Regions from separate parts of the Homo sapiens genome. Here regions 2, 3 and 4 are each linked to region 1. Evidence: fine-mapped expression QTL. A gene starts in region 1. Each other region holds a variant in brackets. All regions are shown on one strand. Distances are from middle to middle.

Region 1 (2,738 bases):
ACCCCCCCAAACACTCAGCCACTTCCTCCCCACATGGGGTTTCCAGCTTTGGGCCCCATTTGGGGCCTGTGCAGCGCCTCTCCTACCCCCTCCCTCCTCCCGAGGTGGGTGCAAGTGTCCTGCGGCAGATGGAGCACAGAGTGGATAAAGAGCTGACGATCTCCAGGGGAAAGGTTGAGCGGGGCATGCACCCCTCACACAAGAGCCTTGCAAAGGGAGGGCTCCAGAAGACGGGATTGCCCAAGGAGGCTGCGGGGGTGCTGGGCTGCAGCCTCTTCGGCCCGAAGTTCAGGAGGCAGAAAACGCGGAGGGGTCTGCCCACCCTCCAGCTCCTCATCCACAATAGCCAAGCTCTTCTCAAAGGCAGCCTGTGCCTGCAGCAAAGCATCCCTCGACTGGCAGTGGTCATAGATGTCCAGGTGGGTGCGGCCGATGGTGGCCCAGGCCCTCTGCAGCTCCGTGTGGTTGCGCAGGGAATGTGCCAGCTCCAGGTACTGGTGCTGGTGCTGAGTGTGGAAGGAAGTCACTGCTGTGAGCCGACTCCGCCTCAAGCAAACCGGCACCGCCAGATTCCCAGAGACCCTGTTCTTGCTAAGGAAAGAGCCTGCTCCCCCTAACCCCCACAGAGCAGGCCAAGGCCAGACACGTGCCCCTCCTCTGCATGCCAAGGGCTCTCTGTGGTGACAGTGGCTTCACGCTGTATGCAGCCAACGCTGTCACGTGGGGAGGGGCAGCTGGGAGTTGGCGGGGGGGTTGCAGTCCTGCCTCCAGCAGCCAGGGTCAGGGAGAGCTTTTGGGATGGGGCCTGACCTCCCCCAACACAAACACAGCTAAAATAACGTTCAGTAATGGTTTCTGGTGCCAGGAAACCTACTCCTGCCCCAGTCCCAGGAAAGGCTGTGGGGTCCCCACCGGAGGACTGGCCCGGGGCGGTGAAGGCAAGGCTGCGTCAGGTCAGGTGTCCCCTCCAGCCCGAGGCTCCTGACGGCGAAGACCAGGCCTCCCTCCTCAGAAAAGGGCTCCAGAGGCCGACCGGGCTGGACGAGGCCAGTGAGGGCGCCCGCACCTGCAAGGCAGCCGGGTAGTCCTCCATCTCGGCCAGGCGCTCTCCGATCTTGCGGTGGGCCACGGCACAGCCCAGAGGGTCGTCAGCGCGCTCCCGAAGCTGCAGCTCCTGCCAGTGCTGCTCCAGAGCCTCGGCGTAGCGGCCTAGGCGGGGGCACAGCACGGCCTGGCAGGCGTCGCGGGTGCGAGGGCGGCCCTGGGGCGGCGTCTGCCGGAAGAGCCCGTCGCCCCCCGGCCCCCGATCCCGGCCCGGGCCCGGGCCCCGGCCCTGCCTCCCGCCTCCTGGTCCCGGCGCTCACCATGGCCGGCCAGGAGCTCCCCCAGCTGGTGGCACAGCGCGGCCTCTTCGCGCCGCTGCCCGGCCCTCTGCGCCTTGGCTTTCGCCTTGCTCAGCTCTGTGGGAGGAAGAGGAGGGCTGGGCCTCCGCGGCGGGGTCCGGGGCCGGGGCCGAGTCCCAAGCCCTCCCCAGCCTCCGCGCCCCCGGAGGAAGGGGTCCCCGAGGAACTTACGGCGAAGCTCGCGCTCCAGGCTCATGCTCGGATCGCCGCGGGATCCGGACTTCCCGCGCTGCGCCGCGGCCCCGCCCCTCGCCGCCGACACGCAGGCCCCGCCCCTCGCCGCCGACACGCAGGCCCCGCCCCTCGCCGCCGACACGCAGGCCCCGCCCCTCGCCGCCGACACGCAGGCCCCGCCCCTCGACGGCGGCGGCGGGCGCGGGGCATTCCGGGAAGTACGGTCGGCCCGCCCGCGGCATCCTCGGAGTTCTCGTGCGGGAGGAGCTGGGGCGGGGTGGCGGCGACAACTGGGGCGTCCCACCCTAGGGGCCGTCTTCCCGGACGCCGGGTTGGCCCGCGCGTGGAGCCCTCTGCCCGGCCCGGGGAGTGCCTGGTGGGGACCCCGTTCCTCCTCGTAGGCGGCGGGGACGCGGGAGGCCGGGGGCCCGGAGCCAGCCCGTCCGGGGTCGCAGCGCGCCCTGGGTGGGGTCTTCTGGGCTGCAGCCCCCGTGCCGCCCGCGCTACTCATGGTGGACGAGCTGTGCCGCCGCCCCAATTCCTCCCGAAATTCACACACACAGCCTGCTCACAGGCGCAACTATTAAAAACGAACGTAGTGTCCAGATAGACTGACGATAAATTCACGAGCATTTGGCTGTGGGGACGTAATAAGGTGTCAGGCGCGCTCCTCCTCCGCAGAACGCAGCTGGGTCACATTTGGGGACTCGGCCCCAAGGACTGTTTTGGGAGGGGAATGTGCTTTCCATAGTGAACAAGTATTGTTTCAGCAATGTGTATGCCAGCTGTATTCTCGGAAGAGTCAGTGAACCTGTGCTTCAGCTGCAGAAGTAGCCCGGGCACAGTGGCCCGCACTGTAATCCGAGCGCTATGGGAGGCCCGGTCAGGAGGATCGCTTGAGCCTAGCAGTACGAGACCAGCCTGGGCAACATAGTGAGGCCCCATCTTTCGTGTGTGTGTGTGTGTGAGACGGAGTCTCGTTCTGTCACCCAGGCTGGCGTGCAATGGTGTGATCTCGGCTCACCACAACCTCCGCCTCCCGAGTTCAAGCGATTTTCCTGCCTCAGCCTTCCAAGTAGCTGGGACTACAGGCGCGTGCCAGCATGCCCGGCTAATTTTTGCATTTTAGTAGAGACGGGGTTTCACCATGCTGGCCAGGCT
Region 2 (2,738 bases), 770 kb before region 1:
TTGCTACAGTCCCATTATTTTACGGTTATTATAAGTGTACTGGAACTCTAAAAAGAACTTGTTTGTATAATGTTATTCTATACAAGGTATGTGCCCAGGAAATGACCAACCTGATGTGTGTTATGACCCATCTGAGCCTCCCATGACCACAGTTTTTCAAATAAGATTAAGAATTAAAGACTGGTGGGGGCTCATAAACAATATGAGTAAAGTGTTAGCCAAAAAAAACAAACAAAAAGAGGTGCCCAAACAAGTCACCTTGAAGTGTGATGCCTGTGCTGTCATTAATACTAATAAGTTAGGAATAGGATGTGGTTCTCTTCATTAGGAAAGAGGCTGTATGGCAGAAAATAAGTACATTTATCATGAGTTAGGACTGTGTGGAAATGAATGTAGTTACTGGTCTTGTGTCATTTAGGCTACTTGGATAAAAAATGAAAAAAATTCTGTCCACCTTCAGAAAAGGAAAAGTGGCCCTTCCTATACCAGTGGTCAGTGTAACCCCTTAGAACTAGTAATAACCAACCCCCTTAATCCTCGCTGGAAAAAAAGGAAATGTGTAACCCTAGAATTTTTTTTTTTTTTTGAGATGGAGTCTCGGTCTGTCACCCAGGCTGGAGTGCAGTGGAGCGATCTCGGCTCACTGCGAGCTCTGCCTCCCGGGTTCACGCCATTCTCCTGCCTCAGCCTCCTGAGTAGCTGGGACTACAGGTGCCCGCCACCACACCCGGCTAATTTTTTGTATTTTTAGTAGAGATGGGGTTTCACCGTGTTAGCCAGGATGGTCTCGATCTCCTGACCTCGTGATCCGCCCGCCTCTGCCTCCCAAAGTGCTGGGATTACAGGCGTGAGCTACCGTGCCCGGCCATAACCCTAGAAATTCATGGGGCTGGACTGGATCTTCAAGTAAATATTGTGGTTTGAGGAGAAGTTTATAAACGCTCTCCTGAGCCAGTATTTCAAACCTTCTATGATGAACTGAATGTGCCAGCACCAGAAATTCCAGGAAAAATAAGAAATTTGTTTGCAATTAGCTGACCATGTAGCCCAGTCTCTCAATGTCACTTCATGCTATGTGTGTGGAGGAACTATAATAAAAGACCAATGGCCACGGGAAGCCCAAGAATTAGTACCTACAGACCCAGTTCCTGACGAATTCCTGGCTCAGAAAAATCACCCTGATAACTTCCGGGTCCTAAAAGCCTCAATCACTAGACAATACTGTATAGCAAGAGTAAGGGGCCGGG[C/T]GCGGTGGCTCACGCCTGTAATCCCAGCACTTTGGGAGGCCGAGGCGGGCGGATCACAAGGTCAGGAGATGGAGACCATCCTGGCTAACACGGTGAAACCCCGTCTCTACTAAAAATATAAAAAATTAGCCAGGCGTGGTGGCGGGCGCCTGTAGTCCCAGCTGCTCGGGAGGCTGAGGCAGGAGAATGGCGTGAACCCGGGAGGCAGAGCTTGTAGTGAGCTGAGATCACGCCACTGCACTCCAGCCTGGGTGACAGAGCAAGACTCCGTCTCAAAAAAAAAAAAAAAAAAAAAAGAGTAAGGAAGGACTTCACCCTTCCTGTAGGACGACTCAGCTGCCTTAGGCAAAAACTGTATAATGGTACTACAAAAACAGCCACCTAGTGGAGTTCAAACCATACTAAGAAAAATCCATTTAGTAAATTCCCAAAGTTGCAAACCGTGTGGACCCATCCGGAGTCCCACCGAGACTGGACAGCCCCCACTGGATTATACTGAATGTGTGGGCATAGGCCTTACACCAAATTACCCGACCAGTGGGCAGGCAGTTGTGTGATTGGCACTATTAAACCATCTTTCTTCCTACTGCCTATAAAGACAGGTGAACTCCTGGGCTTCCCTATGTTTCCCGCGAAAAGAGAAGCATAGCTATAAAAAAATAAGAAAGATAATAAATGGCCCCCTGAGAGAATGATGGAATATTATAGGCCTGCTACTTGGGCACAAGATGGCTTGTGGGGATACCGGACCCCCATCTACATGCTCAACCAAATCATACGGTTACAAGCTGTCTTAGAAATAATCACTAATAGGACCGGCAGAGCCTTGACTATTCTGGCCCGGCAAGAAACTCAGATGAGAAATGCTATCTATCAAAATAAATTGACTCTCGACTACTTGCTAGCAGCTGAAGGAGAAGTCTGTGGGAAATTGAACCTTACCAATTGCTGCCTGCACATACATGATCGGGGCAAGTAGTTGAAGATACAGTTAAAGACATGACGAAACTGGCACATGTGCCTGTACAAGCGTGGCACGGATTTGATCCTGAGGCCATGTTTGAAAATGGTTCCCAGCGCTAAGAGGATTTAAAACTCTTATAATAAAAATTACAGTAGTAATAAGAACCTGCTTACTGATCCGTTGTTTACTACCTGTACTCCTTCAAATGGTAAAAGGTTTCATCACTACTCTAGTTCACCAGAATGCTTCAGCACAGCCGAGCGCGGTGGCTCACGCCTGTAATCCCAGCTTTTTGGGAGGCTGAGGCAGGCGGATCATGAGGTCAGGAGATCGAGACCATCCTGGCTAACGCGGTGAAACCCCGTCTCTACTAAAAATACAAAAAAAAAAAATTAGCTGGGCATGGTGGCGGGCGCCTGTAGTCCCAGGTACTCAGGAGGCTGAGGCAGGAGAATGGCGTGAACCCGGGAGGCGGAGCTTGCAGTGAGCCGAGATCGCGCCCCTGCACTCCAGCCTGGGCGACAGAG
Region 3 (2,698 bases), 21 kb before region 1:
TTGGGAGTTGGAGACCAGCCTGACCAAACATGGAGAAACCCGATCTCTACTAAAAATACAAAATTAGCCGGGAATGGTGGCGTGCCCCTGTAGTCCCAGCTACTCAGGAGGCTGAGACAGGAGAATCACTTGAACCCGGGAGGTGGAGGTCGCAGTGAGCCGAGATCGCGCCATTGCACTTCACCCTGGGCGAGAGAGAGCGACTCCTCAAAAAAAAAAAAAAAGATCAAAATGACCCTTCCTGGCCACCTGCCCCCCTTGACACACACACGTTTCTGGGTGCTGGTCCTCCCTCGAAGCACCCCGTACCCACATGTGCCTGTCAAGGACATCGAGCCCCAGGGCCCGACCCGACAGTGCCCTTCCTCAACTCCCTTGGGTGTCCTGGATCCTGCTGTCCTGGGGGCTCTTCTCTGGCTCCTTGGTCAGTCTCTTCCCACTTCCCATGGCAGTGCCCCTGGCCAGTCCTCCGGCTTCTTGGCGGGACTCAGCCTCCCTCTCCAGCCACTGACATCGTCATCCTGCTTGACGGCCCCCCTTGGCCGTCTGAGAGGCAGTCCCCACTCAGCCTGTGCACAGAGCCCACCTGCCTCCATGATGTCCCAAGCCCCCACGGAAATCCAAGCGACTTGATTTTCACTATCTGCCTTTCTCTACACACCTCATTCCACCGGCTCTAGATGCCACAGATGTCAAGAGGTTCTGGCATTCTCAGTCGCTAAGAGAGAAAAATTCTACAATGACACCCTGGCACGTCCCTTATCCTGAGGGCATAGTTGCTAAGATGTGAAGCACGCGGCTCTTGGAACCCAGAGGTGTGGTGTGTGGTCTGCTGCTTTTCCCTGGGGGCAGCAGCAGGTGTGCAGCACACGCTGTGGAATGGACGGCGTCCACCACCCGCTGCCTCCCCACCAGGCCCAGCCTTGACTCTTGGGCTTTGCCCAGGGGCTTGGGGAGAGGCCCTGGTGGTGGGCATGACAAACTCCCACCCAATGAGTAATTGGCTGGAGCTGCAGATAAGTCAGGAGTCCTGGGCCAGGGTGCAGTCATCCGAGTGGAGAGGTGGGTGTGGAGCAGCTGACAGCATGAAGTGCACCCCGCCTCTGAGCCCAGCCTGGCCTGGTGTGCTGGGACCTGACTGCACTCAGAAGACCTGGTGCTGCCCTGGGCTTCAGTGAGGCGTGGGGAGGGGTGGCAGGCAGCCTCCCCTGTGGCCAGAGTCAAGCCACGCCTGGCCCAGGTGGT[A/G]GACCTGTTCTCCAGGCCTCGGGGCTATGGAAACGCCCCTGCCTCCTATTATGTGCCCAGGCAGAGCCCACCAGGGAAGCAGCCGTCACTGAGTGATGCAGGCCATGAGGAATGCAGTGGCAGGGACAGAGCCAGGGCCGGGCCACCACACAGGTCGGGGGAGGGTAGGCGAGAGGGGCTCTATGCTGAGAGTCCCAGGAGGGTGGAGAGAATACACAGGGCAGGCCTGGGGGAGCCACCCAAGCAGGAAGGTCGGAGAGCATCTTTATTGTGGGGAGGGGCCCGGCCCCCAAAGTTCTGACACCAAAGACAGACACCAGACAGGCAGCTGCAGACAGTGAGTTGTGTGGATGACCACGGCCTGTGTGGCGGACAGGGGACCAGGAGCCATCGCCTCAGACTCTGCCCTTCTGTGCAAGGGCTAGTGCCCCGGGCTCAGGCATGCAGGAAGCGGTTGAAGGCGTTGTAGGCTGACTCCAGGTCGAACAGCATCTGACGCACCTGTGAGTCGTCCAGCTCATCTGACGCCGACATGCCGCTCAGGGTCTGCAGCCTGGGAGTGCAGCACAGGGCATGTGGGGGCTGAGGGCCTCAGGGGCACTGCGGGGCTCCGCCTGGCTGGGAGGGTCTCGGGCACTGCGGGGCTCTGCCTGGCTGGGAGGGACACCCACCACTGGCTGACCGTCTGGCGGCCCTCAAAGTCGGGTGGGAGGTGGCTCATGCGGTGCATGGTCTCCATCAGCTCTCGCAGGTCGGGCTGGATCTGAGACACACACAGCGGCTGGGACCCCGACGCCGGCTCCATCCCCTCCTGCCTAGGCCCCCTGCCAGCCCAATACCCGCACCTCATCCATGGCGCGGATCTCCAGACGCAGCTTGTCCATGACCGTGATGAAGAGCTGGGGGCAGGTGTGCACATGAGGCTCGCGTGTCCACGGGTGCGGGAGGCCCCACGGCTCACGGGCCCCAACCCCTCCTCAGCCACAGCTGTCACTTGGGCCTCCTCACTGTACTCTGTTCCCAAACCCTGCAGGCCTCCTGGGTGAACGAGGTCCTGGCTGCCCAGACAGCTGTGTGGGAACTGAAGGGTGGGCCCACACCCACACTCTCTCCCGAGGCCAGGACCCCGCCAGAACGCACCCTGTGCTCATCCCCCCGACAGGAGTCCAGGTGGCCTGGGGGCGTCCCCGCATGCTGCCCACCCCTCATTCCTAGTTAAAGGGGTTCCCTTCTGCCCAGCAAGTCAGAGTGCTGCTCAGCTCTGGAGGCCCAGGACCCTACGCTCGTGCCCAGCTGCAGCAGGCAGCCTCGGCTCTCCTAACCACGTGCCCTGGGGGCTGGGGCGCACCGAGACCACGTCTGCGATGCAGCGGTTGAGGTTGCCCTTGTCGTCCTTGATGGTGATGGGCCGGTCCTCCTTGATCCGCTCCATGGCCAGCGGGCAGTCCAGCTG
Region 4 (2,500 bases), 28 kb before region 1:
TCCCCTGTGCCGATGACTGTGGTCACTGTGGGCCTCCCTGCCCACCCCCAGGCGCTGCATCAAGGCTGACAGCTCTGGCAGGGAGAAGAGTTGGCACCGCGAGTCTGTGTGGGCTCCGGCCCTGCCCCCCAGGGACGTGGAGGCTGGGGACTCGGGGGTGCCCCCCTCCACAGCCCAGCCCAGGCCTCACCGGCCAGCGTCATAGGGACCTCGCTGCTGTGCTGCTGGAACACAAAGTCCACGAAGTACTGAGGGCTCGGCAAGGCGTGGAAGCAAGACCCGCTCCTGACATGGTCCAGCAGGGCAGCCAGGACGCCGCCAGCACTGCCCGGAGCCCCCGCCCCCACCGCCTCCTCCAGCAGCTGAGGGATATCTACGCAGGCCTGGGGAAGAGGGGGCCTCCGCCTCAGCCTTTGGTGTGACCTTCTGCCATCCACCCCGCTGCCCCTGGATGCATCTCCCACCCCAACTACAGGATCTGCCCCCACCAGCCCCGCCCCTCCCTGGAGCCACAGCCCTCCCTGCCGGGCCCAGCTGCTTCAGGCTCCCACTCAGGCCTCTGGGTTCCTCCCTCATGAGGTCCCTCCCGGGGCTCCTACAGGCTCCCAACTGCCCAGTAGTGAGCCCCACGTTGTGAATCCCCAGCCGCAGGCCGACTCCTGGGCGTCTCCCCAGGCCCCCAGGCTCCCCGAAGGCTTTGCAGCCAGGCCGGGTCCCATGGGCCGTGGGACCCTCCTCACCCACTCCCCTGGTCTGCCTGGACTCTCCCTCACCATCTTGGGGGTCTGGCCGGCAGCCCGGGCCTGCATCCTCTGCAGCAGCCAGCTCAGGCCCGGGGTCAGGGCCTTGGGGCTCTCGAGCAGGGCCAGGAGGTGGTCTGCATGAGAGGCCCAGAGGCCAGCCCGAGCGTCCTCACAGGTGCCCTCGGGGTTGCTGAGGTACAGGACGGCGGCGGCACTGAGGCGGGCGACGTACCTGGCCTCCAGGACCGGGCCCGGGGGCAGCCCTGACCCCTCAGGCTCGCCCAGGCCCAGGGCGTCCTCCACAGACAGGCACTGTGGGCAGAGACAAGTGAGCAGGGGCGCTGGGCCCACCAGGGAGGGGAGAGGCAGGCCTGGCCAGGGGCTTCCCCGAGGGCCTGTT[T/G]CCCTTTCAAGTCCAACAACGTCCACCATCCTCTCTCAACCCCTGGCGCCCTTCCGTCTCCCCAGGCCCCTGTCCTGCTTCCCCAACTACAGGGGTGCACGCAGAGGGGTCCCCAACAGTGGTCCCCCATCCCCAGGGGACTCCCCTGGAGCCACTGCCAATTTGATGGCAGAGGGCCGGCAGGGGGAGTTGGCCCTGGGGTCCTGGGGAGAAGAGGGACTGTGTCCCTGGAAAGGCCTGTCTGCCCTCATGAGCAGGAGGGTGGGCTCTGGCCTGTGGGGAGGGTCAGGGTGCCCAGGTACTGCCACTAGCCTCCTCCGCCTCCTGGAGTTTGCCCAGGGCCCTTTGCTGCCGGCTGGCAGGGCGGAGCTGGCGGGAAGAGGCCAGGGCTGGGGGACCCGTCGGGTGGGGCTGTTACCTTTCCACACGGCCCGTTGGCGCAGTGCACACGGTCCGCCAGCGTATTTAACAGGCCGCCCAGAGCCTCTTGATCCAGAGCGCCCTGGCCAGAGGTGAGCAGGCTCAGCAGACCAGCAGGCGGGGACGCCGTCGCCGTCACCACCAGCACAGCCAGAAGCAGCCCCAGCTCCAGCGAGACCAGGGACGCCATACTCAGCTCCCAGCGTGCTCAGTGGGTGTTGCTGTGGCCAAGGCCCAGTGCTTCTGGGCTGGCTGAGGGCGGCTTTGCTGGGGTTGTCCAGGGCCAGACTGGGGCTGGGCTAGGACCCGCCCGGGCTGCATGAGGACCTCTCCCAGGTATTCCTGCAGAGCTCTGTGATTGGCTGCTGGAGATGCCTGGGTTAACCATTCCAGTGGCAGATCCTCCCCAACAGCCTGGAGCCACTGCCTGTGGGGGTCGAGGGCTGGGCCCCTTCCCCTGGACAGGCAGCCTCGGTGGTCTTTTTTTTTTCGAGTTGGAGTTTTGCTCTTGCTGCCCAGGCTGGAGTGCAATGGCGTGATCTTGGCTCACGGCAACCTCCGCCTCCCGGGTTCAAGTGCTTCTCCTGCCTCAGCCTCCCGAGTAGCTGGGATTACAGGCAGCGCCACCACGCCCGGTTACTTTTGTATTTTTAGTAGAGACAGTGTTTCTCCATGTTGGTCAGGCTGGTCTTGAACTCCCAACCTCAGGTGATTCGCCCGCCTTGGCCTCCCAAAGTGCTGGGATTACCGGCGTGGCTCACCACGCCAGGCCAGCCTGGGTGGGCTTCTGTCCTCTGCCTGCTGCCCCCCAAGCTGTGGGGCAGGGCTGGGGTGTCCCCTTCTGGCTGTCCATCTGGGGGCTGCCTCCAAGCTGGGGGACACAGGGCAGAGGTGCACAGATGCCCCCAGAGCCTGAGAGCTCCCAGGTCCCTGCCTC

Which allele goes with the higher level. Positions count from the first base shown, and alleles are read on the strand shown. Sizes are in standard deviations (SD) of each study's normalised expression. Not every link is listed here.
For the expression in unexposed skin of the gene that starts at base 1,625 in region 1, G is the high allele of the variant in region 4 and T is the other (small effect, 0.25 SD a copy in GTEx).

What was found.
Region 2: its variant is fine-mapped to the expression of TONSL in unexposed skin (GTEx, PIP above 0.99).
Region 3: its variant is fine-mapped to the expression of TONSL in whole blood (TOPMed, PIP above 0.99).
Region 4: its variant is fine-mapped to the expression of TONSL in unexposed skin (GTEx, PIP 0.91).

Annotation. Positions count from the first base shown.
Region 1 is chr8:144,442,816-144,445,553 of GRCh38, forward strand. TONSL (tonsoku like, DNA repair protein) reads right to left here and starts at 1,625. Exons shown (of 26, transcript NM_013432.5): 1 at 1,575-1,625; 2 at 1,365-1,460; 3 at 1,067-1,209; 4 at 323-506. The coding sequence starts at 1,599. RefSeq lists an enhancer at 517-1,025 and silencers at 1,271-2,040, 2,081-2,220.
Region 2 is chr8:143,677,036-143,679,773 of GRCh38, forward strand. No RefSeq gene overlaps it. Among named protein-coding and RNA genes, the nearest start is that of ZNF707, 6.1 kb to the right of the region's middle. The variant C/T (reference allele first, on the strand shown) is at 1,248.
Region 3 is chr8:144,422,125-144,424,822 of GRCh38, forward strand. It overlaps VPS28 (VPS28 subunit of ESCRT-I), which reads right to left. Exons shown (of 10, transcript NM_016208.4): 7 at 2,594-2,695; 8 at 2,091-2,144; 9 at 1,917-2,008; 10 at 1,493-1,798. The coding sequence ends at 1,681. Among named protein-coding and RNA genes, the nearest start is that of VPS28, 5.1 kb to the right of the region's middle. RefSeq lists enhancers at 1-657, 658-1,427. The variant A/G (reference allele first, on the strand shown) is at 1,246.
Region 4 is chr8:144,415,037-144,417,536 of GRCh38, forward strand. It overlaps SLC39A4 (solute carrier family 39 member 4), which reads right to left and starts at 1,808. Exons shown (of 12, transcript NM_130849.4): 1 at 1,562-1,808; 2 at 774-1,055; 3 at 191-383; 4 at 1-74. The coding sequence starts at 1,753. LOC124902041 (a long non-coding RNA gene) reads left to right here. Exons shown (of 2, transcript XR_007061145.1): 2 at 1-2,500. The variant T/G (reference allele first, on the strand shown) is at 1,144.